Homo sapiens: one gene and its partners. The protein of the gene in region 3 interacts with the protein of the main gene of each other region in a pairwise test. Each region holds a gene or a part of one and is shown on either strand. Other genes may lie near its edges. The genes, in order: ERMP1, TNMD, HHLA2 and SLC38A7.

Region 1 (7,025 bases), on a different chromosome or scaffold from region 3:
GCCTCCCGGGTTCACGCCATTCTCCTGCCTCAGCCTCCCGAGCAGCTGGGACTACAGGCGCCGCCACCTCGCCCGGCTAATTTTTTGTATTTTTAGTAGAGACGGGGTTTCACCGTGTTAGCCAGGATGGTCTCGATCTCCTGACCTTGTGATCCGCCCACCTCAGCCTCCCAAAGTGCTGGGATTACAGGCGTGAGCCACCGCGCCCGGCCAGCCCTAATTTCTAATTTTATTTTTGCCAAACAAATTTATGCATTTGAAACCATAATAATATAACAATATTCTCAGTATAAATCATTTGGAACCCTATTTCCCTTCCCTCTGTTTTCCTTAGCAATGTGTCTTTTAACTCCAATGACATACATGCATGCAGAATCTGAATCAACAATATACAGTTAAAAAGAAAAAACAGTGAGGGAAAAACTGAAAAAACTTTAAGTACAACATTCTTTTAGGCAACAAATACTTGCTGTGTGTTAATGCTGTGTGTCAGACACTACCTAAGCACAGAGGATACAGAAATAAATAAAACAATCCCTATCCTCAAGGAGCTTACACTCCAATGGAGAACAGATATTCAAATAACATAAATAAGTGGGTGAGCCCAGGACATATTTACAAACACTGCAGCAAATTCAGTAGAAGGCTGTGCTAACAAGCCTTCCAGTCACCACCACCCTAACACTGTTAACAGCCCGGCTTTATAACCTCATTTGAATTTTGTGACATTACCCTCAGAATAAGAAATCTTTCAGAAAATTAACACAGTGTAGGTGCGTTTTCCATAACCATGCTGAACAATTTTTTAGCACTCAAAAGGCCAAATACAATGAATCACACTTAAGTTCATCTTCAGTCCCTGGAGGCAACAGAAAGAAATCAACAAATATACCAAACACTTACCATGTAATAAAATCTTTTCGCAAGAGTATGTATAAGTATTATTTTGGCTACAGTTGCAGTTCCATACAGACAAACGGAGACATAGAAGTGGTTATACCATGAGAGAGACTGTCCAATAAGAGAGATGAACACTGCTATAATGAGAACGGTAACAAGGCTAGTGAACCAGCTGATCAAAGTGATGCCAAGTCCACACAAGAAGTCCTTCTTGTAGTTACCAGCTAATGAAGAGAAAACAAAAAGTTGAAATCACCATCTTCATCAAATCAGTTATATAACCAGTCAGTAGAGCTAAATGGGCAAACATTAAAACAAAAAACTCCCCACTGTACTTGAAAAGTATGAAAATGTCCTAGTGTTGAGATTGGCCAAACACAAGAACAAGGGAGGTATCAAATAATAATATTCAGGTAACATTTATTAAGAGTCTCTAGATACTAAACACTCAAAAAGATAAATCTTCTAGGAATAGTTCAGGTACATTCCTTATGAAGGAAGAGGATAGTCTTAATCTTCTTCACTTTTGGTATGCTTTGTGTATCAAAATATTAGCAAGAATGGAAGGCAAAGTTCCATATAAAATGTTGTTAAAATAAGGTAACATAAGAAGATAAGGAGTGTGGGGAAAATAAGCGTTGATAAAGAATTATTTAAACTGCTGCTAAATATTTTATCTCGTAACAGCACACAACAACTTAGACTCTGAAACATTTCAAGCAGAAATATTTCAAATAAAAGAAACAGTTTAACCACAAGCAGTTCATTCATACTTCGTGACACTGGTCCATACTAGCTATTGGTCTGTAGTGTGGACTTTTTAATGGGACTTTTCATTAGAAGTCAATCTGTACAAACCATTTTTCAATAGTTTCTATGTGGTACTTTTATGGAGTGCCTAAATATATAAAAATTGACTGCTTCACCAAGACTAAAAGTAAAATAAGCATATTAATTTAATATTTAAAAATTTCTTACAATATAAAGCAAACATTGTCTTAAGATTTTTAGCTTTCTGGGAAGATATAAACAAACTGACTGAAAAACTTCAAGCACATTCTACAGCAATGCCAGTATTTGTAGTTTTAGAGGAAAATACTTACTCTTATGTTTGGGCTGCAAAAATTTTTTGCCCAGGTACAAAACAACACCCATTACCACCATGTAGTTTATGATTGAGCCAATACGAGAGGGGTAGGCAATGACAAACAGGCCCAGCACATCAAAGAAGACCATGTTTCCATGTCGATACTTAGAAGCAGCAGCCAGCATATCAGATGTAGCTAGATGCTTAAGAACTGCTAAAATGTTGTCACCTATTAGTAAAAACAAAAAAAAAAAGAAAGAAAAGGAAAAAGATAAAAAGGCTGAATAAACTATTTGTGATTTACACATACCACTATTTAAAGCAGAAATAAACCATATACTGTTTGAATGAAGAAATGGTTAGAAAGAATGTGAACAGAAATCGCTTTCTACCATCCTACTGCTCTCCCTCACTTTTTTTACTAAATTTCTCAAATAAGGTCCATCCCCTGCCTTTCTCCATTTCCTCTCCACTCAGACGCTCAGCCAACTGGCCTGTATCTTTTCCCTTCTATTAGAACTATTCTCTGTGATCAATTGTACCTTCATTGTTGACAAATCCAATGGCTGTTTCTTGGTACCCATTCATTTAATAATATATATTAACTGTACTAGACACTCTTCTAGATATCAGAAATTTAGTGGTGAACCAAGAGACAAAGGCCTTTCACGAAGCTCAGAGATGCTGAACAAGCTGTCACACATGTGTTAAAAATTGAGGAGAGCTAGCAGAGTTCCACAGGAAAACATCATGGGAGACTAACAGAGCTACATTCTTACCACTCAGCAATCCTCCCAACCCTGGGCCAACTCCTTTTTCATTTCCTCACAATGAATATTCCTGACCTTAATTGCTACACTAGACTACAAGACTAAAATTCAAGATCTCATCTCTCCAACTCCAAAGCCCTAGCTCATTCACATTGCATACTGCCTCTCTAATGCACAGGCCACAGAATATTTACAAGTTTATGTATCATCCCTAACATTCCATCTTAGTGTATATCAAAAGTCTAAATTGGAATACCAACCTGCTCTCTGAATGGAATCTGTTAGAATTCTGTCCGCTGTGTCATACTTGGTGTGATAAATGTATCCATTCTCAATAAAAGCTAAGTCTATTCCTAAAACATATATATAGAAAAAAAAAAGTCATTTTGCTTTAAAGATCAACCTTGCTTTCGACCTATTTCTTTAATAAATTCCTAAAAGACAAAATGTCAAAGCAGTGGCACGATTGCTTTGTCACATTTACAAACGACTGATATAAATTCTCTTCCAAATTCTTACACAGTCTATAGCTTTGGTACATAATTCGATACATAATGATTGAAGAAGTATATTACTCCACAGGTAGGCATTACAAGTCACACAGCAAGGATAGGAATATTGAGTTTGGGAGGTCATGAAAATTTTGCCACCTACATTCTTGCCAGGCCAGAGCCAAATTTTAACTTCAAATAAGTTGTACATACAAGTTGCCAAGGGAGTTGGCAAACCAAGACAACAACGAAAGACCCCTGAAGGATCTATTACCATCTTTTGGGAATGAGGTGCTAAACAGTTCACCCCTGTTCTTCTATGGGGAAAGATGACATATTTTAGAGGAGGCCAGCATTTAAATTAGTATGGAGTTTAAAAAAGGAAACAAACTCTGTTTTAGTGAGTCAATGTATATTTCTCACATAAAGAATTTGATCTCAGAAAATGCTGTTTACTCACATACTTTCAAGATTTAAAATTTGCTTTTGATAAATAAATGCTGCACAGTAGGCCGTAACCATTGACAATATACCTGGAATGTTCCCAAAATCCCTGTAGATACGAAAGTCAGTATCTGAAGGAATGATTCCACTCTGAAAAACCTCCTGAGCCACCACAGAAGCAAAAGGGTGTTTAGCTGCTGAAACATAAGCTTGAACCAACCAAGGATTTTCAGGACCTAAAATGAAAGATGACAACACAATAGAAGGTATTCCGGCAATTTTTTTTAACATACTAATGTTTTTCAACACATAGAAAACAGTAAAAGTGGTGGTTTTGGGAGACGGGTCCAATATGTACCTTTTCATCCCTTTTTCTGTAGTTTCCAATGTTTCTCTGATATATGTGTTTGACTTTTAGAATAAAAACCTTTTGTGAAAATAAAGTATAAAATAACAGCAATACAAAAGTCTGTCTGAAAATGAAAGATCATTCATAAATCTATCATCCTAAAATGCCTATTATCAATTGTATATCTTTAATTTTCTTACTAATGTAGAATTGTGTGTATATAGCTGTACTCAAGATATATATACTTTGTACATTTGTTTTCACTTAACATTATATTAAATGCATTTTCCTATGTTGCTAGATACAAATTGGGTATACCTTATCTGAAATGCTTGGGATCAGAAGTATTTTGGATTTTTTACTTTTTCGGATTTTGGAATATCTGCATTATACTAGTAAGCATCCCTAATCCTAAAATCCAAAATCAGAAATGCTCCAATGAACATTTTTGAGCATCATGTCAGTGCTCAAAAAGTTGTGAATTGTGGAGCATTATGGATTTCAAATTTTCAGATTAGGGATGCTCAATCTGTATTATAATAATCATTTTGATAACTGCTTAACATTTCACTGAATATGCCATAAAGTTCCTTGTTACTTTTTATAATTTATCATTATTAATAATTTTCCATCTGTATCTCATACATCTACAGCTTTTTCAAATGGGAGTTTTTCCTGTAGGATAGTGGGATACATTGTTTTATAATTTATATAATTATATAATTATACGTATATTTATATAATTATAATTATATAATTATATGTATAATTGTATAATTATTCACTCTTCCCTCGCTGAAAAAGGATTATACATTCCTACTCTTGCCACATACCTTGTAATGCCTGCCTGGGGAATGAGTACATACTCTTCTGTACCTATTAACTGCAGGCGTGGCTACATGACTTGCTCTAGCCAACAGACTGTGAGGAGGAATGACATGACCCTCAACTGGGCAGAGTTTTCAAAGGCATTAACATCATTCATACTTATCCTTAACTTTGATTTGTGAGATCAATACATCCCTTATAGGGGCTTCTCCTTCAGCCTGGATCCCAGAATGAATAAGACACATGGAACATAATAACCGTGGACCATAACTGCAGTTATTCAGAAACCAAAATGCAACACGAGCAAGAAATAAGCCTTTGCTGTTGTAAACCACCAAGATTTTGGGGTTGTTACCACAAAACTTAGCAACATATTGACTGATGTAAACAGACCAAGTAACTGAATGTCAGGGAATCTAAGAATATTGTTTTTTTAACTTCACAGATTATAAAATTGCTTTCCTACATTTTAAAAAATGACCAAGGCTGGGTGCAGTGGCTCACGCATATAATCCCAGCACTTTAGGAGGCCGAGGTGGGCAGAGCACCTGAGGTCAGGCATTTAAGACCAGCCTGGCCAACATGGCAAAACCCCACCTCTACTAAAAATACAAAAATAAGCAGGGCATGGTAATCCCAGCTGCTCAGGAGGCTGAGGCAGGAGAATTGCTTAGACCTGTGAGGTGAAGGCTGCACTGAGCCAAGATTGTGCCACTGCACTCCAGCCTGGGTGACAGAGTGAGACTCCATCTGAAAAAATAAAAATTAAAAATTAAAAATGACCCAAAAAAGCAGAGGGACCCTATAGAAACAGACATACAAGTAATCCAGATACTGGAGTTACCAGACACAGATTCTAAAATAATTATGATTAATATGTTTTAAAAAACACAGATATCAGTAATTTCACCAGACAAGTATAATCTATTTAAAAGAGTCCTACAAATGGAAATCCTAGAATGAAAAAACATAACTGATGTTGCGAATTTTAATAAATGGGCTTAACACAAAGTTTAATACAGCAGAAGAAAGGATTAAAATTAAAGCATAAAAAGAAAAAAAGGTTGGAAAATACACAAATGTGAGTAATTGGAGTCCCAAAAGAACAGAAGATAGAATGGAGAAGATAAATGTTTAAAGACTTAATGGCCAAGAATCTTCCAAAACTCATAGAATTCAAGCCACGAATTCAAAAAGGTCTACAAACCCCAAACAAGATAAATATAAAGAAAAACTGTATCTGGCACCATTTACTTTTGAATACTATTCCCCACCAAAAGAAACCAAGCCTCCTTAGAGAAATGGCTGATTCCAGGTCTGGGACTAGCAAAGTACAAGGTAAGTTGAAACATCTGTGCCAGAAAGTAAGAAAGTGATCAAAAAGACATGTCAAAGGGGCTCAGGCACTGATTTGAAATAGACACCACTGGCCTAAACTGGGACAATTCATGCAACAAAATAAACAATAGTAACAGAATATATAGAGTAAAATTAAAATACATAAAGTACTGAAATAACAAAAAAAAAAAAAAAAAAAGGAAAATGGAAAGCCTTCCTTCTTGCAGAATTCCAACTATGACCTACAGGCAGAATGATGGAACCAGAAACTCAGCAGTAGCATTTGGTAAACATTGTAATAAAAATGCTTGGGGACAAGAGTCATCAATGATTGCTAAAACTAGGATCAAAGTTTTATGACAAACAGGATATTTACCTAAAGTATCTATCACTAAGGGGAAATCAGTAACTTGTACAAAGAAAGAAATAGTAGAAAAACCTGGCAAATAAATACCTTAATCAAACGATGAAAATGTAGTATCATTAATAATGAGACAAACAGATACCACATGCATCCTGATGTGATGCACTGAGGACACAAATACAAAAGGAAAAAGAACTATGATGATGGGGAAATACGTACATTACGAGATCTTATCATATTAAAATACTATTATTAAAATATTACTATTTGATATTAAGAAATTTATGCTAAAAAATACAATGAAAACCATACTGAAAAACAGGTAAAGCCAAACTATCATTAATTATCTTAAAACTTAGGATAATAGTTCCTCTTAGATGGGAGGGAGTTGTATTTGAGAAGAGAGGTTAAAAAAAATGCCTAGGCAGGCAAGGCAATCCACCCTCTTCCATGA
Region 2 (7,914 bases), on a different chromosome or scaffold from region 3:
AAGACTCCATGCCAGGCAAAATAAGCACTTTAAATGGATTACCTCATTAAGTTATCACAACAACCTATAGGTACTGTTTGTATCCTCCTGTTTTTCAGATAAGAAAATTGAGGCACAATAATGGCTATTCTTGGTTGGTGCAGATTTGAAGGGATTTTTTCTCTTTTTTGTATTTTTATATTTCTCCATTATTTTTATAATGAGTGTGTATCTTTTTTATAAAATGAAAGCCATTGTGAAAGCATGTCTCAAAATAAATAACTGTGAAGATTCCCTGGGGCTCAGTCTTGAGCTCTTTTCTCCTTTTGTCCTGAACTCTCTTCCTAGACCATATCATAGACTCCCATAGGTTTGAATGCCATCCAAAGGCAAATGGCCCCCATATCTATATTTCCATTCAAGCACCTGTTTTCCAAGCTCCAGACACATTTGCCCAGCTGCCAACTAGACAACTCCTGTTGGATACTTCATAGACTGTTCAAGTTTAACATGTCCAAAACTATGCTCATCACTTACCCCAGACTGGTCCTCCTCAGTGCTTCCTAATCCCAGTGAATGGTGCCACTGTCCACCCAAAGGCACAAACCAGAATCTATGTTATTTTTTGTTCTTCCCTTTCTCTCATTCTCTATATATTCAATCTATCACCAAGTATATGCTTTACCTAAAATATGTCCCAGATCTGTTTACTTATTTCCATCTCTGCTACCACTTCCTAGTCCAAGCCACTATAATCTCTTTCAGTTACCTCCTAACTGGTCAACCTTTTAAAACTCTTGCCCCCTTACAATTCATTCTTCTCACAGCAGCCAGAGAGATTTTAATAAACATAAAAGGAATTCTACTTAGAACTTTTCAATTAATTCCCATTGTTTGTAGAATAACTTCAGTTGAGTACACGGGCACATGCCTGTAATGCCAGCAACTTGATAGGCTGAAGTAGGAGGATCACTTGAGTCTGGGCCAAGTCCAGCCTGGGCAAAATAGCAAGACCCTATTTCTAATTTTAAATAAATAAACTTCAAACATTTACCATGACCTTTGTGGCAGAAATTATAAGTTGCCTACTCAATATGTTTCCCCCTTCTATATATACATAAAAAGATATTATTAAGAGTGGTAACAGGCTCAGTTGAAAATAAAACCTCCCCAGACCCCACTATAAGTAGGAGTGGTCATCCAACCCAGTTCTGGCCAATAAGATAAGCAAAAATCTACAGGACAGGGCTTCCAGGAACACTATTACTTTCTTAATGGAAAGGGACAAATTTAGCTGCCACATGTTCTTTTGCCCTTTGCTATCCCCCCTTTATCCTGCCTAGAGGTGGAGCAGCCATCTTGGAAGCATGATGATGGAGGCCATGCTCAAAAGATCACAGAACAGAAAGATGGAAGCTTGGGTCCTTGTACTTGAACTAGCCCTGGACTGCTGACTTTGTGACTCCCATTATGTGAGAAAAATAAACCCTTCATTTGGTTAAACTGCCATAACTTGGTTTCTATTACATACAGCAAAAAACAGTCCTAGCAGATGCAACTCTGAATATGTCTCCTGCCTACCTCTTCAGCCTTATCTCAAGTAACTCTCCTCCTCATTCACTACATCACAGCTACACTGACTTTCCTTTTATTCTCTAAATAATTCAACCCCTTTTTTGCTTCAGGATATTTCCATGTGCTGTTCCTTTGGCCTGGAATAATCTTTTCCCCACTCATTACCAGCTAACTTCTACTCATTATTCAGGTCTTAGCTTAAGTGACAACTCCTCAGCATGGATTTCCCTCACCCATCCCACCCAATCCAAATTAGGTGCTTTAAAGCACCTGCACTTTTCCTTCTTAGCATATATCATCATTTATGTACTTTTATTTACAGGATTTTTTTCCTTTTAGTTTAATGTCTGTCTACCCAACAAGACTCTGAGCTCTATAAAGGAGGAACTGTGTTTGCTTGTCTACTACTGAATATATATCTAGCTCCTATAACAATGCCTGCCACATAGGGGACACTGAATAAATACATGCTAATCAATGAACAGTCTATTGAAATGCCATGTCCTTTGTGCCATTTTTCCTGCTTTTCTGAATCAGAATTAATCACTCTTCCCTCTATGTTTCCATGGAATATTGCTTTGACTCTTGGTTTAATTCAATCCTTTTAACAAGAAAGGCATGTTTTAAAAGATCTCAAAGTCTATTCAGGAGAGGAACACATAAAAAAGAATTATAATACAGCATACAAAGTATAACGGTTGAAGTATGAGCAAGATACAAAAGTAGAGCAAGGGAAAGGGTAATTAACTTAACGAAGTGGAAGAGATGAGACCAGGAAAGGCTTTCAGGGGGTGATAACATCTAGGCAGCATTTTGAAAGCCAAATGGGAATTTTCCAGGTAAACAAGGGAAGGCAGAAAACTCCAGGCAATGAATATAGCATGGGCAAATGTCCTACAGTGTGAAGAAGTAGGGCATGTTCATTAATAGGGTGTACAGTGTGAGGCAGGCATCAGAGGCATAGTGTGAATAACATCACTGAGGGGAACCATCTGACCCAATAAACATAAGTTTCTCCATGAGACTGCTCTTGTGGCTTTTCTTTTTTCTCTCTTTAAGCTTGACCAAAGAATTGTAGAACATATAGAATCGTGACATATTTCATAATTTATGTAATCAGTTTAATGCACAATCATGTATCCAACAATTAGAAAATTATTTTCCTTGAGACATTAGGATGTGGAGGTAGTCATATGTACATGCCCCATTTTCCTGCCCAGCTGCGACCTCCCAGTTGGCTCCATCGCTGTAGAAAAAAATTGTCCAAAATCAAGACTAGAGAGTTGGACAAAGTCGAGATCATTAAATGCCTACTATGTCACAATAAGTGGCTTGGATTTTATAGACAATGAATAGATACTAAAGGATTTTAAGCAAGGGAGAGATTATCCTCAAATTTGAGTCTTAGAAAGATCACCTTGAAGACAATGTATGAGAGACAAGGAAAACAGAATTCTATTGCAATAGTAAAAGTGACTGAGAACCTCAACTTAAACAGTGGTGATTGACAATGGAGAGAATAGGATTGCAGAGCTAATTCAGAGGCAGAATTAACTGGACTTAATAATTGATTAGCCATGGGGATGAACAAGACAGGAAGAAATCAAGGATCATCTGGAAGTTTCTATTCTAGAGACTGATTATTGTGTCATTTAGTGAGAGAGGTAATACCAAAAAAAAAGTGCATGTTTGAAAGGAGAGATAACTAATTCAGTTCGGGATATATGGAATTTGAGGTGTCTGTTGGGTATTGTAGATGTCTAGCAGGTTAGATGGACATATGGATGTGGAGCTCCAAGAGAACAGCCTGGGTAAAATATATGGATGTGAAAGTTCTCAAAAAGGATGACAAACTAAACTGGGGTGTTAGCAGTGAGCACAATAGGAAAGAACAGCTTTCAAAGATATAAAAATTTAGAATAGATAGGATCTAGTGATTGATTGGAATAGATAGGATCTAGTGATTGATTGGATAAAGGGAATGTGAAAAAGAGACAAAACCTCAGATTTTTGGTTTGAAAGACAAACCTCACATTTTTGGTTTGAAAGACAAACCTCAGATTTTGGTTTGAAAGACTGGGTGCGTGACAATTCCACTATTATAAGCTAAGTTATGTTCCCTCAAAATTCATATGTTGATGCCCTAGCCCCCAGTATTTCTATATTTGACTGTATTTGGTGATAGGGTTTTTAAAGAGGTAATTAAGGTTAAGTGAAGTCATATGAATGGGACCTTATCCAATATAACTGATGTTCTTATAATGAAAGGAGATTAGGATACAGGCATACATAGAGGGAGAATGTCATGTGAATATGGAGATGGTCATCTACAAGCCAAGGAGAGAGGACTCAGAAGAAGCCAACCCTGATAACACCTTGATCTTGGACTTCTAGCCTCCAGAGCAGTAAGAATATAAATTTCTGCCATTTAAGCTACTCAGTCTGTGGTATTTTGTTATGGCAGCCCTAGCAAACTAATATAGCCACCAACTAAGGTTGGGAATATGAGGGGAAAAAGTAGGTTAGGAGAAGGTGTTGAAAGAAGACTTTGATATAGAACATGTTGAGTTTGAGATTCCTGAGGTATATCCAGGTGGAGATGTTCAAATGGCCTTGAAATTAAAAGATATAACTGGGTTACAGGTACAGATGTGGAAATCACTGATATGTAGGTGATATTTTCAACTGTAGGAATGAATGATATCATCTACGAAGTCTGTGTAAAGTGAGAATGATCATCAAGAAGAGAACCATAAGGCATGTGAACATTAAAAAGCAGACTGAGGAAGAGGACCCAAGAAAGGAGAAAAATCAGAGACAGAAGATGAAGAGAGAGAGCTTAGAATTAGTCTTTATTTTATCCTGTTTTCATTATAATTAGTTAAGTACATATTGATAGCACCATTTAAAGAGCTTTAACTTAGTGAAGGAGGCAATATCTTATTCATTTCTGAATCTCAAACACCAAGCACAGTGCCTGACATTTAATATCCCTGCAATAAATATTTGTTGAACCAAATGGAATCGAAATTAGGACTTCATTCCCTTCTTTGTTTTGTTTGCTTATTTCTGGAGTGTGCAGCATGTATTGCCACTGATATTTTAAGTTCATAGTGAAAAATCATTTCAATGTGTTCTAGGCTTGGTCCCCTTCCAACCCAACCCCCAGGACAATAGTTTTCATTATAACCTTCTGTCTTTGCCATTCTGGATGGAATTCTGTGCACAGAAGTTATATACATATATGGGTATATCTATGTAACAAATCGCAGCACAGGAGTCCCCTGGGCTCCCTCAGGCTCTGGTATGACATATTTGAGCCATATAAATTCAGCTTCTCCTCTGGCATCTGTTAGCCGACTCACTTGCAACTCCACCTCAGCAGTGGTCTCTCAGTCCTCTCAAAGCAAGGAAAGAGTACTGTGTGCTGAGAGACCATGGCAAAGAATCCTCCAGAGAATTGTGAAGACTGTCACATTCTAAATGTAAGTTGATTCATATTTTTTCCCTTTTGAGCAGAAGCATGGTTTCACAGATTTATCATATTGCAAAGTGAACATTAGAAAGTGGAATCAAAGGTGACTTTGAATTATGGCTTGCTTATTGAGATTTATTGTGTATTGTTTTATTCTCTCTGTTCTTTGGTTAGGCAGAAGCTTTTAAATCCAAGAAAATATGTAAATCACTTAAGATTTGTGGACTGGTGTTTGGTATCCTGGCCCTAACTCTAATTGTCCTGTTTTGGGGGAGCAAGCACTTCTGGCCGGAGGTACCCAAAAAAGTAAGTAAATACACATCATAATCTGATGCTTCTGTTCTGAGTTTGATTGAATTTAATTAGTAGGCATATAAATTATTCTGAAAATGAAAATCATTAAGTCTCTTTTGTGTTTATTTTCTGGTGGTATGAAAAACTGAATCAAGATTTTTCTCTCCTTCATTTGCCTAATTATTTTGGTAAGGGAAAAAAATTTATCTTCTATATTTTGGTTAGTAATGATAGGGTGTAGAATTACCCATTCTTCTATAATGCTTATATTTAAGGAGTTAAGACTCCTCCTAGGAGCAAAGTTTTTACCTTAAGAAAAAATACTTTTAATCTTTCTTTCAATTATCTGGGCAGAAACTGATGGAAAAGTAATTAGACCACCACATAAGGAGAAACCACCCAAAGTGGCAGCAAAGGATTTTCAGGGATTATGTTTCTGACTTAATGCATCTGCAGTGAGAACAGGCAGCAAGCTGCTTTTCAGGAGGAGCAATTCTCATACCTGACTTCACATTTATTTATGACTTTAAAAAGAAACTAGAGCTTTTCAGCTCCTTGCCAGCTGCAATCATCACTGTCCCACTGAGATAGCAATGCCACAAGGTAGAAGCATGCGACACCAAGTCATTAATCACAGATAACTCAGAAAGCTTCTGATACTGGGGTCATTTGGTGAAGCTTGGCTAGCCACTGTAGTTTATATTTCTGTACCTTAGTGTTATTGTTATTCCTGGGCTCATAGGCAATGGGCAAGTTTAGATATAAAATAAATAAATAAAACCATAGTCCCAAATAAAACCATAGTCCCTTCATGCTCACAATTTCCATTTGAAAGATAATCAACAAATATACAAACTACAAGTTGTGAAGATAGTTTTCTGGCTTTGCCATGTTTTTCTGTTGGTGTGTGGATTGCTGCTGAAGTTATTGTTATTACTGTTGTTAATTGGTTGTCATAAGATGCTCATTTCTATTTGGTAACAGATGTAGGGAGAAAAAAGCACAAATCCAGGAAGGAGGATGATACAAGAAAATGGGTTGGCATGGACCGTTAGGAGCCAAAGGAGCAATAGGAGCAGAGAGAAAAAAATATGGGTCAGTGGGGAGAGAGAGGCAGAGCAGGAAAAGCAGAAAATAAGCTGGCTAAGTGTCTGAAAGATAACAGAGGTATAAAGCATAACCACCCTTGGGTTCTCCACCTCTGCTGTCATACCCACTTTCATTTAGTCCCAAAGGATATCTTATCAGGTTTAAGTAGGAGGGAGAGCAAGCCAGCCTACTTTGTTTGCCTTTTTATTTATACTTTGTTCCAGAAAAGATTTCAGGCATCACCCAATGCCTATAGTTAGCCCTATCCCCTACTCCTCCTCCCCTTACTGCTCCTTGCTTCTGAACTACTTACCGTTCAAATGTCCTTCTAGAGAAGCCACCTGTGTTCAGGCTGGCAGGGTGGGTAAAGCAATCGAGATCAGGAAGGAAACAGCAAATTAATAAGAGAGCCAAAATGCATTCCAATACAATTCTGGTACCACTTAGCTAATTCCCAAGGTGATATGTCACCCCACAAGTTGAACCTTGGATCCTCTTGAAAATTATCCATGAGTTAAAGGGCCATAAATCCTTTGTTCTCCACAGCCATAATGTACTTAACTGGGCATGGTGGATAGCTAGTCCTTTTGACCACCCTTAGATGCTTGCCTAAATAAGGGGCCAAATGGCCTTTCTTGTTTTATTGTTGTCATTGGTACTGCAAATGCTATTCCAAAAGAGTATATGTGTTTTTATAAATTTACAGTGCTATTTGCCTCAACGCAGCTATAAACGACTAGGTGGAGACCTTGCCTTTTTATTGCAAAGTGTCAAACTCACTTGCAGCTTCATGGTCTCCTCTCTTTCCCTATTATATCATCTTTACATCTCATTCTAGTTCTGTTTTTAATGATTATAAGGAGCAATCCTATGATACCTCAAACCAAAATAAAACTTGGTCAGTGCATGCACAGAAGAGGTGGGATATGCTGCTGAATAAAGTTTATCAAAAATCAAACCTCTTGTGAAGTAATCCATTTTGGGATGTCATTTTCAGCAAAGGGACTCTCAGAAATGAACAAAGCTATTATGAAGTAATCCAGATAAAGACAACAGGTGTCCCCTAGGGCAAGTTTCTCTACCATGAACAAATATTGTTGGTTTTCCATTCCAGTGGGGAGTTATGATTCATTGTCTTTGATATTTAAGTCATGGCCTTCATAAGACCAGGTTTGGTTCATTGAAAACTAAGAAATCAGCTGGAAATGAGGATGCTTTACTTAGTCCACTACTACCTTCAGGTCCCAGACAAAGATCTCAAGAGACCATCTATGTTTCCAATGGGTACGCCTATCAACAAGCCTGCCTTAGAGCAGACTTAAGAATTCTGGGAAGAGACTAGCAGTCAGATTAGTCTTGGAAGAGTTGCATAGGAAAGGGACACAGGCATCTTACATAAATTAAAGACTCTCCCCTTAATGGTATGGCCTAGCAAGAAACAACAGCAGATTAAAATCCAGGCTCTTTGGGCTTTCCTTAACAAATCTATGAGACTTGTTGGG
Region 3 (7,025 bases):
TAATACAGCCAGAAGAACCAGCCCTAGGGCTTCGGTCTTGGTCTTCTAACCGCTGCAGATGGATTTGCTTTCTTTTCTTTCATCTTCCTTTCTTTTTTTGCAAATCAGTCCCCATTACCCCCCAACTTTGAAACAGCACGTGTACACAGAAAGTCCTGTGGAGCCTACCTTTCATCGTCCAGCGCCCTGTCCATGTTTGCTTCAGCAGTGAATTTTCAATTGTACATTCATAAGATGAATTTGATCCTGTAATATTCAGTGGGCTGTTAATAGAAAAAGAATCCAAAGACCCTGTTTCTTCCATGTTGTTTTCAGAGATAGGTGTGTTGTCCATTTTCCACGTGATAATTGGACGAGGATAAACACTTAACACGCTGCATATTAAGAAGCTGTTTGTGTTCCTCTTTTCATACTTCATCACGGGTGTGAGAAAAACTACATAGGAGAAAGAAGGGCGCATGAAAAACTGCCATCATTAGCTTCTTTATAGGCCGTCTGTGCAGAATACTTTTTAATATCCATGAAATGAAAAGCTAAATTTTATGAGCAAAACTTGGCAGTTACTGAAAGGGAAAACAAACCAACAAACACACACCTCTGTAGAACCTTAAGATATAGTGTGGTTATCTAGAAGAAATAAAAAAAGAGCAGGCATGGGTATGTGGCAACTAGCAATCTCAATTTTCTAGAAACATAGCTGGAAAAGAAATCTAATGGCCTCATTGAAAAACCAAAATGAGGATGTCTAAGTCTATAAAGTAGAGTTCATGCGGCACTCTACACTCCTCAAATACTGACTCAGAGCACCTATTTGACTGTTTACACATAATTTTGTGATTTCTGAATCAAGGTCTGAAGCAGCTAAAAGGGACAGAAGAAAAAGAAACAAGTGCTGGGAAAAACAACCCATTAGAAAATACTGCATGTATGTGTGTGTGTGTATATATATCTATATGTAAGATTGTTCTATATATTATAATGCATACTAACTATATTGCATATAAATGATCAGCAGCCTGATCATTAACAGAGCACATCATCAGGAACTCTTGGTAATCCGGTAATTAGGAGCCATGAAGCTCTTTGAATTTCTTCAGTTTTAATCTAATACCTGTTTGGTTCAATGTAACTATGAGAATTAGCAACAGTTAATATATTAATACAGTTAATATATTATATAGTTATATTAACTGTATAATATAACCACCATGAAGCTCTGTCTGAGTGATATTAACTGTATATAACTGTATGTATTAACTATATTAATGGCTTATAGTTATATAGGTATAGTGTTATATATAGCTAATACAGAGAAGGAAAGCATATAATATAAAATTAACCTCATTTATAATATAGAAAAATGCAATTTAAATCAGCAATTCAATATTTTTTCAGTCATGATATTGGCAGTTATTTGGTACTGATAAGACTAAGGGGAAAGTGGATAGTCTTATGCTGCTAGTATCAGTAACCCATTTAAATCTTCTGGTACTTTGCTTTCAGATTATTTCCCAGTATTAAGTACAATTATAAGGATGTTCATCACAACCATGTAATGTAAAACACTGGAAATGCCTGAATACCCACCAACAGGGGAACAGTTGTATCATTTATAACATTAGTATACTACAAGTTGCTGTGCGTTAAAAATAAGTAGATTTCCATGTATTGACTTGGAAGGAAGCTCATGGCATATTAGGAAAAAGACGCTTACTAATAACATGGAATGATGTCATTGCTGTTTCATGAAACTTTACATGCACACTTACCTCCCACCTTTAGCACCACTTTGTTTGTAATCACTTGAATTGCTGTTCCTACATAGCAGGTGTAAATTCCTTCGTCCAGAAGGCTTACTCTTCTGAAAAATAGCGACGCATTCCCATTTTGAATCTCATTATAGAAAAGGGATGTCCTGTTTGCATATCTGGGATCTTGGCTTTCCAAATGGTCACTGCCTTTGTAGTAACTGTGAACCTTATAGCTATCTTGATACTTCCAGTGTATTACGACTTCGGATCCCCTCTCAAATGAAGAAGGGAGAATTATATCTTCATCAAGTCTTCCAATGACGATTTGTTCATTCATAGGAACATAAATGAAGAAAGCCAAAGGGAATATGCCTACAGTCAAGAGCAGAGAAGTTATAAAGAGAATTAATGCCATGTGCTTGTTCAGGATTATACCAGAACTACCCAGAAGAACTATCCTAGGTTAGCAGCCTGATTATTAGTAGACCACATAATCAAAAACACTTGTCTGATTATTAGAAACAAACCTGTGAAGCTCTGTGTTTGAGTTTTAATTTTAATTGAATATCTGTTTTATGCAATGTAACTGGGAGAACTGGTAACAGCCCAAGGCATAGAAACACTGGTTTGCTGCCCACTTGATCAATAATCTTATCTCTCTTCCAATCCTGGCCTGGAAATCATGTATGTTAAAAGACTCCATTGGATTTCATTCCCAGAACACATTCACATTTAACTCCTACTATAGCAACAATAAATTAGTTTATCCAGCTAGCAACAGCCAGCAGGCCCTAAAAGAATGGAATAAACTCAGCTTGACTGGGTAAGAAAATATTTGGAGCACATAGAAGACAATGCTGGGTTCAGGAATCTGATATCTGTACACTAGATCTAAATAGGGAAGGACATGAGCAGGAGGAGTCCAAAAGGGAAAGAGAGTCATTCATTTGCTTTGAGTTTAAGACTGCTCTCAGGATATCCTGAGTTGGTCAAAATGTAGGTAAGGAATATCTGGAGATAAATCTGGAAGCCTAATCCCCAATTCTCTTGATTTACTTATTTTGTTTTGTTTTCTTTTCACTGTCAACTTCACAAGTTAATTTCAAAAAGCAAATGAAATCAACAGAATAAGAGATTTTTGCAAAGAAAATATACCCAGACACTTCCTATCATTGAAGGAGGTAATCTAACTGCTTTGATTTACAAAATATTTTAAGTAGATCTTGTGCCCTGTCTATGGATTCTAAGATATTAGCACTGGAAAGGACCTTATTTTTTGGACAATGGAGTAACTCCTTTGGCTCATGGCCCAGGCCACCCAAGATGGAAGAACTGCGTGCCCAAGTGGCTCTGTCACAGTCTTTATCCTCTACCTTCCCTTCTGGGGCTCTTTCTACCCTACCATGTCCCGCCTCTCTTCCTCAGAGAGACTTAATCTCTCTGCAGAGAGCTAGAGGGATGTGGCATCATGCTGAAAGAAAGACACAGAAAGATGGGAAAGGAAAAGAGTGACTGTCGATCTCTCTAATTGCTCTGCTAAACCCCTCTAATGTTTCACTGGATAATTAAGAATGCCTGTCATAGGACCTAGCAAAGCTGATAATGCCTTCTGTCAAGTGGTAAGTACCAAGCTTACACTTAAAAAAAAAAAAATCAATCAATCAAACTTGCCTTTCCAGTGAACTTACTTCTGGTAGCAGACAACAGATTAGAAAGAGTCTTAATCAGAGTGGACAGAAAAAATATATATAATTTTTAGTCTTCATGCAGACTTCCAGCCTGTTCCTTGCTTCTGATTAACTGATGATTTAGGAAAGTTCACGATGCTGTGGCTATGGAGGAAATAGCCACCTTGCATTGTGTGCTCATGTTTCTATCTGATAATGCAAATAACTAACACTTGTATTACAAACGAAATTACCTTGAGATCCACTCAGAGATGTTATGAGAATGAGGAAGAAAGACAGTGCTGTCTGTGCCTTCATGTCTTGTGCAGAACATATTAGTCATGCTATCAAAGAGAAGTAAAGTGCACATGTTATGGATTTAAAATGCAAAAGGGAATTGGAAAAGAGTGGTACATTCATACAAATAATTGTTTTGTGGCCATTAAATATAATATTGTAAAGGATGGTTCAATGGCATGGAAGGAATTTCTTAATAGGTTATCGGAGAAAAATTAGATTACAATACAATTTCTAAATAGCATGGTTCCTTTTTTAAAACATACACATTTCTGATCATAGGATACTGACAAGATATATGACTAAGTATATGAGGATGTTAATTCTGAAGAGCAGGTTTCATATCTGAAGCAGTGACTGCTATTAACAGGTGCTGAAACATGGCTCTTGAATGAATAAAGATTTAGTATATCTGCAACAGTGGTTCTCTGGATAATAATTTGTTATTTTTAAAGCTTTCTACATGGACACATTTGCTTTTATGATAGAAAATACTAAAACCAATTTAAATTCAATATTAAGTGCCAGTGGTGTAAACTATGATGTTATTTATAATCACACATAAAGAACAACTAAAACCTGAAAATATATTTTTACATATCCAATACTAGTGCAAGCCATTAAATTCATGGGTTACAAAGCATGTTTCAAAAACTCAAAAAAGTGAGAAAATATAGATGGCAAAACGTGTATACACAAAAATACAGTTTCAAGCAAGTACAATGTAACTGATTTTCCCAGATGATAGGATTAAAGTTAATTTTTACACTGTAAGAAATAGCTTGTTTAAAGAATAGCATACAATTGGTTTTAAAATCTCTAAAAGAAAGTTTTAAAGGTATCATTTGGTGGCTGGGCATGGTGGTTCACACCTGTAATACCAGCACTTTGGGAGGCCAAGGCAAGAGGATCACTTGAGGTCAGGAGTTCAAGACCAGCCTAGCCAACATGGTGAAACCTTGTCTCTACTAAAAATACAAAAATTAGCCGGGTGTGGTGGCATGTGCCTGTAGTCCCAGCTACTCAAGAGGCTGAGACAGGCAAATTGCTTGAACCAGGGAGGTGGAGGTTGCAGTGAGGCGAGATTGTACCACTGCACTCCAGCCTGGGCAAGACAGTGAGACTCTGTCTCAAAAAAGTAACAATAAAATAAAATAAATAAAAAAGATACCATTTAGGAGCTCTACTATTACAAGAATATATTCTATATTTGTTGTGAGGTATGTGATTTAAGAATGACTTGAAACTATTTTAAGAAGTGAAATTAATCATGCAATATACCCATGTAACAAGCCTGCACATGTAACTCCTGTTAAAATAACAATTTTTTTAAAAAAGTAAAATTAGATTCCTTCATCACATCTTATCAAAATAAAACCTGGTAGATTAATAATTTAGAGTTTCATTTTTACATTTTAAAGACTATAAGAAAGTTATTGAAAACACGACCTTAGGAAGAAGGCCTTTTAACAAAACTGTACATTTTCTATTATCTCTATAAAAATGGAAAAAGCAACAAAATATAGAAATACTTTTGCAATATGACAAAGTTATGAGTCCAATTGCTTTTATTTCTCTTAGAGCAATAACTAAGATAGTTGGTAAAGTCAAAACTGCTCCAAAATAGTATTAGTTATCAAAATTGAGACCTTTATATTTCTTCCTATGGAAGTATTTGCATGTATAATATATAAAAGGATATCACAATGATTATTTTGGAAGAGTAAGATTACAAGTAATCATTAAACTCATTTTTCTACTATGAAAATATGTAAACATGTAATAATACCTTTTGCCTCTATATGCCATTAAAAAAAACCTTGAAATTTAATTACTGTCTCTTTCCAAGCAAAAATTAACTCAAATTCACCTTGTTTAACGTAACCCTGAAACATTCCATGTCCATTGTCTTGCTAGAGGTTCATCTTCCCATTGCCTAGAATGACTCCAATATTTGCTACCTTCTCTTGAAACTGACATTCCCTGTTCTCATCTCTTTTCCAGCTGATGCTCTTACTTCATAATTGTTGTAACTGATTATGGCTACTCCCTCATCCTCCTATCACTGACTCAACCAACCCATTAACATCTAGGTGCACTCTTTTTGTCTCTCCTTCTGCTCTTATCCAAGGCCAAACCCTTCACTGTACTCTGCATCTCACACCTTTCTGTATTCAAGAAATTTGTCCCATAAAATGAGTTAGGGAGGATTCCCTCTTTTTCTATTGTTTGGAATCATTTCAGAAGGAATGGTACCAGCTCCTCTTTGTACCTCTGGTAGAATTTGGCTGTGAATCCATCTGGTCCTGGACTTTTTTTGGTTGGTAGGCTATTAATTACTGCCTCAATTTCAGAACTTGTTATTGGTCTATTCAGGGATTTGACTTCTTCCTGGCTTAGACTTGGGAGGGTGTATGTGTCCAGGAATTTATCCATTTCTTCTAGATTTTCTAGTTTATTTGCGTAGAGGTGTTTATAGTATTATCTGATGGTAGTTTGTATTTCTGTGGGATCAGTGCTGATACCCTCTTTATCATTTTTTATTGTGTCTATTTGATTCTTCTCTCTTTTCTTCTTTATTAGTCTGGCTAGTGGTCTATCTATTTTGTTGATTTTTTTTTTTAAAAAAAACAGCTCTTGGATTCATTGATTTTTTGAAGGGTTTTTTGTTCCTCTACCTCCTTCAGTTCTTCTCTGATCTTAGTTATTTCATGTCTTCTGCTAGCTTTTGAATTTGTTTGCTGTTGCTTCTCTAGTTCTTTTAATTTTGACTTGGAACCAACCCAAATGTCCATCAATGATAGACTGTATAAAGAAAATGTGGCACATATACACCATGGAATACTATGCGGCCATAAAAAAGGATGAGTTCATGTCCTTTGCAGGGACATGGATGAAGCTGGAAACCATCATTCTCAGGAAACTATCACAAGATCAGAAAACCAAACGCTGCATGTTCTCACTCATAAGTGGGAGTGGAACATGGACACAGGGAGGGGAACATCACACACCGGGGCCTGTCAGGGGGTGGGGGGCTAGGGGAGGGATAACATTAGGATAAATACCTAATGTAGGTGACGGGTTGATGGGTGCAGCAAACCACCAGGGCACCTGTATACCTATGTAACAAAACTGCATGTTCTGCACATGTAACCCAGAATTTAAAGTATAATTAAAAAAAAAAAAGAAATTTGTCCCTGCAATCATATTTCCTTTCTACTACATCATCAGGATCTCTCTCTCTCTCCTGAATCAATTCTATAGGCATAAAAGCTCCAATCACCCATCTTAGAAACATGAGAAAAAACAA
Region 4 (7,025 bases), on a different chromosome or scaffold from region 3:
GAGGCTAGAACAGTATTGGCCCAGGCAGCTCCTACGGTCTATCCGTGGAAAGAACTCAGGGGATCCTTCTTCCAGGGTCTCCTAGACTTGCTCCCTCACCCCAACCACTCTCCACACGGCAGCCAGAGCCACCTTTCCCCGAACCACCCCCCTGCTTAAAACACTTCCTCGATGACTCCCAGCAGCCCTCGAGGCCCAACAGGATCTGGCTGCCAGTGCCTGTCTGGCCTCACTGCCTTCACCTGCCCCCATCACACACCACTCCAGCCACATAGACTTTCTTCCTGGCCCTGCCTCAGTGATTTGGTGTTTTGTGGTTCCTCTGCCTGGAACCCTTCTTCCCCAGCTCCTCCTCTTCTGGCTCTTTCTCATCATTTGGGCCTTCTCTGAGAAGAACCTTCTGTGAACCACTCCCAAAGCCACCCATCCAGTCCCATTCATACCTTCCCCATTTTAGGCTGGGTTGGTGGCTCATGCCTGTAACCCCAGCACTTTGGGAGGCCGAGGCAGGAGAATTGCTTGAGCCCAGGAATTCAAGACCAGGCTAGGCAACATAGTGAGACCTTGTCTCTGCTAGAAAAAAAAAAAAAAAAAAATTAGCTGGGCACAATGGCACATGGCTGTAGTCCCAGCTACTCTGGAGGCTGAGGCAGGAGGATCACTCGACCTCAGCAGGTTGAGGTTGCAGTGAGCTATCATCATGCCACTGCACTCCAGCCTGGGCGACAGTTTCTGAGACCCTTTCTCAAAACAAAATAAAATAGAATAAAACAAAACACACCTTCCCTATTTCACTGTCATCAGGATGCTTGCCACCATCTGGAATTCCTTACTGATTCCCCAGTTACTCCTGCATGACTGTCTCTCCAACAAGAATGTCAACTCCATGAGGGCAAGACCAGTTCTGTCTCTCTCCATGGCATCCCCCATGCTGAGAACCGTTCCTGGCACTTCCTAGGCACCAAGTTAGAACTGGTGAATGAATGGATGAATACACCACTCTCATCTTGGCAGGAGGAGGCTCCAGGCAGGCCAAGTTCAAGCCAATGCCTATACAAGTCATGCTGGGAATGCAGGGCTGTCCCCAGGAAAGCTAGGCCCCAGGACCTAGGGACTCCTGTGGAAGTGAGAGCACTCTAGTCCCAGGTCTTGGGGGGGGGGAGCACTCACCTGTCCCCATGTAGACAGCGAGGGCTATGACCATGGCAGCTGTCACCACTCCACCCCAGGTCTTCACTTCAGGCTGCTGCATGCTGTTGAAGACGGGCACACTGCTGACGTGGCACTGTCCAGGTGAAGGGCACCGTCATGGTGGGGAAATGACCTCAACCCCAGTTTCCAGAGGAAGGTACCTTGGGAACAAAGACCCCAGGAACAAGGGGCAAGTCCTGAGGCCCCTGTTCCATCCTTCCCCCCAGGATTTCCTCCATTCTGCCTGGGTTCCTCCTCCTTGCTGGGTTCCATCCCAGGGTGGGGTGATCTAAGGGGACAGCAGGGACCTTGCAACTGGCACTGGCACCTGAAATCCGAAGCAGATGGTGGGCATGGCATTGAACACAGCCATCCAGGAAGCCGGCCTGTGAACAAACACACATGGTGCTGCCACCTGGGAACCCCTCAGAGCCACAACCCACCCCACGCCCTCACTCTTCGGTCAGCCCACCATGGTCTCCAGCAACTGGGATTCCATAGCTTCAACCCACAGAAGTCTGGGAACAGGGAGAAGAGGCATCCTTATGTCCCAGGGCCCTCTGGGATGGGGCCTGGAGGTTCAGAAAAGCCCCCCTGGGGCCAAAATCCAGAATTCCTGGCTCCTGGACTGGGGCTTTTGCTTTACTGGTTTGTTCCTTTCAAAAGAAGGAAATTGTTTTTTTTGTTTTGTTTTGTTTTGTATTTTTTTGAGATGGAGTCTTGCTCTGTCACCCAGGCTGGAGTGCAGTGGCGCGATCTCGGCTCACTGCAACTTCTGCCTCCCAGGTTCACGCCATTCTCCTGCCTCAGCCTCCCGAGTAGCTGCTACTACAGGCGCCTGCCACCACACCCGGCTAATTTTTTTGTATTTTTTAAGTAGAGACGGGGTTTCACCGTGTTAGCCAGGATGGTCTCAATCTCCTGACCTCATGATCCGCCCGCCTCGGCCTCCCAATGTGCTGGGATTACAGGCGTGAGCCATTGTGCCTGGCCCCCCCCCTTTTTTTTTAATAATAAATTCACCCTCAAAGATACAGAAATTACAGATAAGCAGATGCTGGAAACACAGGCAATTCGACCCTGGGATTCCACCCTCAGGTTCCTCCACAACCCAAGGCCTAGCCTCACACTGGCTCATCTGTTGGATGTAGGTGGCAAAGTGCCTCCTGTCTCTGATTCTTGCTCTTCCTTCCAGTAACATCAGAGCAGGGGCTCTTTCCTCCTTCCTACAATGACCAAGTCAGCCCTGATGAGCTCATGAGCCTTGAGAAGAGCACCTGTGTGGCCTTCTGGTTCCTGACCCAGCACCTGCTGGGGCCCAAGTGGTGGCTTCTTCCCCATGTCTCCTAGGGCCCTCACCCTCACCTGGTCAGGATGTTCCCTGGGGTCATCTCTTTATCTGGCCAGATGTACTTGATGATAACGATGGCTGTGACGTACCAGGTACCCACGACGCTCAGGAAGCTGCCGGGAAGGAGAGACTAAGTGTCCTCATCCCCAGCTGCCTCTTATCTGATTCCACCCCTAGGGACATCCACCTTCAGCTCTAGCGACCACAAGTGTCCACTGAATGAACCGGAGACTATGCCAAGCAGACTCAGGAAACGCCTGAGAAGTAGTTTCAGAGAAACCTGCCACAGCTAGGAAGGAGCTGGACAGCCAACAGGGGACCTGATCAGCATTCCTGGCCATCAGGAAGTGCTGGTTCAGCTCCATGGCTCAGAGACGATGCAGAGAGCAGAGCTCCAAAGCACACCTGGGACTTGAATCAGAGCAGCCCAGCCCGGGCAGGGGCTGTGGGAGACCATCCTCTGAGCCTGGCCTTTGAGAACTAAGAGATGCCAGAGGTAAGAGGGTTGAGAGTACAGACACTTTTGTGTCAACATTTATGGGAGCCTTGGAGAGAGCGGAGCATGGCCCCTGCACTTACAGACGGGGAAGCCTAGAATCCCACAGCCTTTCAGACACCGAGACAGGAAACCAGTCTCCTTCCTTCATGCCAAGCTGCAGGTAAGATGCTGGTAGGCTGACAGTCTCAAAGACCCAAATTCCTCCCAGGGAATGCCAGGAGGCTGCCTTCACCGCCCAGATACCACCTGTTCCTTCTTTGACAAGGGCACTTAGAACTGAACTACTCATGGATGCAAAAGGACATTTAGAACTGAATCTCTCATGGATGCATCCTTTTTCTATGATGGAGACAGAAAAGGATGGTCTTATCTGAAACCCTGCAAGCCCCGGTCTGCCCTGCCTTGCCTACTCTTGCTCCCCAAGGTGAGGTGGCATGGAGGAGCAGGGTTCCCCAGGAGCCCTTGGGTCTACAGCTGCCCAGGATCATAGCTTCTGTCTGACCCAGGCTGGGGCCTCCAAACCTGGCATATTTCTGGAAACCAATCTCCCTGGGGATGGAGAGGGGCAGGATGAAGAGGAAGGCAGTGAGGCTGATGGTGAACTTGCGGTCTGTGTACCAAGGGCCGCTGGCCCCCTCCGGCTCTTTCGCCATCACAGCTATAACTGCACAGGGAGGAAGGAGGGAATGTCAAGCCAGGCCACCATGGGGTGTGGCCCTCCTGCTCTGCTGGGCCCCAGGACCTCCCTCTGCCTGGAGGGAGGATTCCCAGATGAATGCTGGGCCCAGGTAAGTCCTGGAGAGGTGTTCAGTGCCTTTTCCCTCCACCCCAGGATCCCTGGGGCTGATAAGAAGAGATGGGGTAGGGACTGAGGGAGAAGCTCACTCTTGTCCTGCTGGTCGCCAATGATGATTAGGAAGGCAATGCAGGTGCCAAAGGTGTAGACAGCGATGGCCACCTCACATAGCACACCTGTCAGCTTGCCACACACAGCCCATACCACCTCCTGGTAGGTCCTCTCATTGCTGGCCTGGGAGCAGTAGGCCAGGATGACAAGGCCACTGATGATGAAAACCAGCATACCCTGCAGGCAGAGGCAGAACAAGAGCTTGTGGCAAAGGCCTGGCAGCAGAGGGCACCCTGGGCTCGCCTAGCATTTACTGGGCCAGTGCCCAAAGCAAGCTTGGCAAATCTCACAAAGGCAATTTTAAGAGACTGCTAGAGGATGCCGAGTTGAGATTTTCTTTAAAAACAAAAAGTTTTTTGAAAAATTGCCAACATACAAAAGTAAAGAGAATAGGCTGGATGCGATGGCTCATGCCTGTAATCCCAGCACTTTGGGAGGCTGAGGCAGGAGGATCACTTGAAGTCAGGAGTTTGAGACCAGCCTGGCCAACATGGTAAAACCCCGTCTCTACTAAAAATACAAAAATTAGCTGGGCATGGTGGTGGGTGCCTGTAATGCCAGCGACTTGGGAGGCTGAGGCAGGAGAATCACTTGAAACTGGGAGGCAGAGGCTGCAGTAAGCCGAGATCGGGCCACTGCACTCCAGCCTGGGTGACAAAGCAAGACTCCATCTCAAAGAAAAAAGTAAAGAGAATAGTAAAAAGAACTGGCATGTATCCATCACTCAGCTTCAAAAATGATCAATGCATGGCCAACTTGTTTCATCATTCCCCTTCCCTCCCACTCTGCATTTATTGTGAAGCCAATATAAGCTATCATATCATTTCATCAATAAATATTTCAGTATGTAGTTCTAAAAGATAAGGGCCCTCTTTTTAAACATACCACAAAATCAATGTTACACCTAAAAAATTAGAGATGTAATTGATGTTCAAATTTCTCTGATTGTTGGAAGGCTTCTGAAGCCTCATTTGGGTCACAGGAAAGAATACTAGAATAGATTAGTCATGTCTGCCATGTGTGAGGGAGGGGAGAGCAGTGCGTGTATCACTTACTGGCCATCCCTGACCCGAAGCCTCCCTTTTGAGGCAAAGCGCCCAACTGAACTGCACCTCTGCCCTCCCGGCCAGTGCACTCACCATCTGCAGTGCGATGCCTGCTGCCACGCCCCCCGCAGTGCTGAAGGCTGCTGGGAAGTTGAGTAACCCTGCACCCAGGCACGCGTTGACGACGATGAAGATGGCCCCAAGTGTGGAAGTGGTGCCTCTGTCCAGACCCCCAGGAGAGGCTTCCCACTCACTCTTGGGGGCTGTGTCCACACAGGGACTCTGCAGCAGCCGAGCCCGCTCCCCGGCATCCGTGCTCAAGTCCCACTCGCTGTAGTCATTGTTGATGCTGACCTGGGCCATGGCCCCGAGAGCCTTCTTCCTGCAAGGTCTGTGGGTTCTGCCTTACAACCACATGCCTCAGGGAGCTGAGCAACACCCACCTGTTTGGGGCTGTTAGCTTAGGACTCTTCTCAACCTAGATGGGACAAAGGCAGGCACTACTGTTATCCTAAGATGGGGGAACTAGGGGACAAAAAGGTGTAATAACTTTCCCAAGATCACATGGGTAGGGTCCAAACCCAGGTATGCCTCTGTGCAGACAGTGCACTGGGTGCCAGAGTATGGGGAGACAGACACAGAAACAGATCAGGTGCAAATCATGCTTGCTTCAGGCATACAGACTCAATGGACCAGTTAGATGTCAACATAAAATGGGTACTAACACATCAGCACTCGATAGAGGCCCCGCATCGGGCAGGTGTGTCATGGATATACTTTATCTCATTCAATCCTTAGGATGGTCTTGTGGTCAAAAGGTTCGGAGAGATCCCATCACTGACCCAGGGTCATATATTAGCAAGTTGCATAGCAGGATTTGGATCCAGATCTGTCTGGCTTCCCAGCCTGTTTCCACCCCACAGGGTCCCAAAAGGACCCCTTACCAAGAACTGAGATTCAACATATTACAGTCCAGCACGCCTCCCGGTGGCCTGGAGTCTGAATTCTGTGGCTTTCGAGGCCCTTCGAAATTCAGGCCAATTCTCGACTCTTCTCTCATGTGACAAGCCCCCATGCCTGTCATGTTTGCGTCTTCAGGAAAACAGTGATTCATCCCATGCTTCTAATGCTCCCAACTCCTTTGCCGCCACCCTTTTAGGTCCTATTTCTTCCCCATTTCCTGGGTCACTCACTGAGCTCTTCTTGGAGCCATGTAGGGGCCCAGAACCACTCTAGCTGGTTTCTTCTCAGTACTCTCTCATGTGCTAGCATCTCACTGGCCACTAGGCTTGCTTTCCTGGGCTAGATTACAATGATCAGTGCCAAACATGCAGTGCTGTTTGTCACTATAAACCACTATTGCTGCAGCTATGGAATGCTTTCTCATTCAATCCTCAATGCAGCCCTAAAAGGTAGACATGACAGTCACCATTTTACCAAAGAGGAAGCTGAATCCCAGAGGGGATAACCACTCTCCCCTCAGTCATATGGCGGTCAGTGGTGGAGCTGGGATTCAAACCCAGGCCTGTCTGACCATAGGGCATCCATCTGTTTGTATCTGCCCCACTCCTGGGTCCAAGATGGTACCTTGGGTATGGCAGAACTCAGATAACAGGCTTATCACCTGACTGATTCTCTTTGCTCTCTGGATAAACACAATTGAGATGCAGTTTTTTTTCTTCCAAGAATCTCGAGAGGCTCTGAGGAGCCCAGCCCTGAAAAAGGATCTTCAGTGTTCTCAAGGTTCAGCTCATAGCCTGAGACCCGCAGAGAAATGATGGTCCTAAAGCATCAAGTCCACCCCCAGATCAAGAGCAGCCCTGGGCAGGGCTGTGATCTGGGTCTCCGAGTAGGTTCTGCCGTCAGAATGCTGACTCCTCCGCTGCCTATCTGTGTGACCCTGGGCAAGTCACTTCGCCCCTTTAGGCCTTTACATCATATGTTCCTGTGGGTCGTGTGTTAATATCAGTAAGGGTTTAAGACTCAATAAATGGTCACTGCTGCTGTTATTTCTGCAGATGCCCCTTCCCA

The links.
Region 1: the proteins of HHLA2 (region 3) and ERMP1 interact in binary tests that used the Homo sapiens proteins (3 or more experiments, as listed by UniProt).
Region 2: the proteins of HHLA2 (region 3) and TNMD interact in binary tests that used the Homo sapiens proteins (3 or more experiments, as listed by UniProt).
Region 4: the proteins of HHLA2 (region 3) and SLC38A7 interact in binary tests that used the Homo sapiens proteins (3 or more experiments, as listed by UniProt).

Annotation. Positions count from the first base shown.
Region 1 is NC_000009.12:5,809,108-5,816,132, forward strand, and holds part of ERMP1 (endoplasmic reticulum metallopeptidase 1), read right to left. Parts: intron 3,929-7,025; coding exon 3,782-3,928; intron 3,111-3,781; coding exon 3,018-3,110; intron 2,217-3,017; coding exon 2,004-2,216; intron 1,125-2,003; coding exon 904-1,124; intron 1-903. UniProt on the Homo sapiens protein: Within the ovary, required for the organization of somatic cells and oocytes into discrete follicular structures.
Region 2 is NC_000023.11:100,580,028-100,587,941, forward strand, and holds the start of TNMD (tenomodulin), read left to right. Parts: upstream 1-4,908; 5' UTR 4,909-4,991; coding exon 4,992-5,039; intron 5,040-5,203; coding exon 5,204-5,335; intron 5,336-7,914. UniProt on the Homo sapiens protein: May be an angiogenesis inhibitor.
Region 3 is NC_000003.12:108,348,525-108,355,549, reverse strand, and holds part of HHLA2 (HERV-H LTR-associating protein 2 isoform a precursor), read right to left. Parts: intron 3,763-7,025; coding exon of another isoform or gene 3,737-3,762; coding exon 3,673-3,736; intron 2,124-3,672; coding exon 1,770-2,123; intron 436-1,769; coding exon 169-435; intron 1-168. UniProt on the Homo sapiens protein: Through interaction with TMIGD2, costimulates T-cells in the context of TCR-mediated activation. Enhances T-cell proliferation and cytokine production via an AKT-dependent signaling cascade.
Region 4 is NC_000016.10:58,674,770-58,681,794, forward strand, and holds part of SLC38A7 (sodium-coupled neutral amino acid transporter 7), read right to left. Parts: intron 5,473-7,025; 5' UTR 5,358-5,472; coding exon 5,088-5,357; intron 4,126-5,087; coding exon 3,927-4,125; intron 3,706-3,926; coding exon 3,564-3,705; intron 2,656-3,563; coding exon 2,557-2,655; intron 1,578-2,556; coding exon 1,520-1,577; intron 1,353-1,519; coding exon of another isoform or gene 1,307-1,352; exon of another isoform or gene 1,286-1,306; coding exon 1,171-1,285; intron 955-1,170; coding exon of another isoform or gene 845-954; exon of another isoform or gene 765-844; intron 574-764; coding exon of another isoform or gene 545-573; exon of another isoform or gene 481-544; intron 1-480. UniProt on the Homo sapiens protein: Symporter that selectively cotransports sodium ions and amino acids, such as L-glutamine and L-asparagine from the lysosome into the cytoplasm and may participates in mTORC1 activation. The transport activity requires an acidic lysosomal lumen.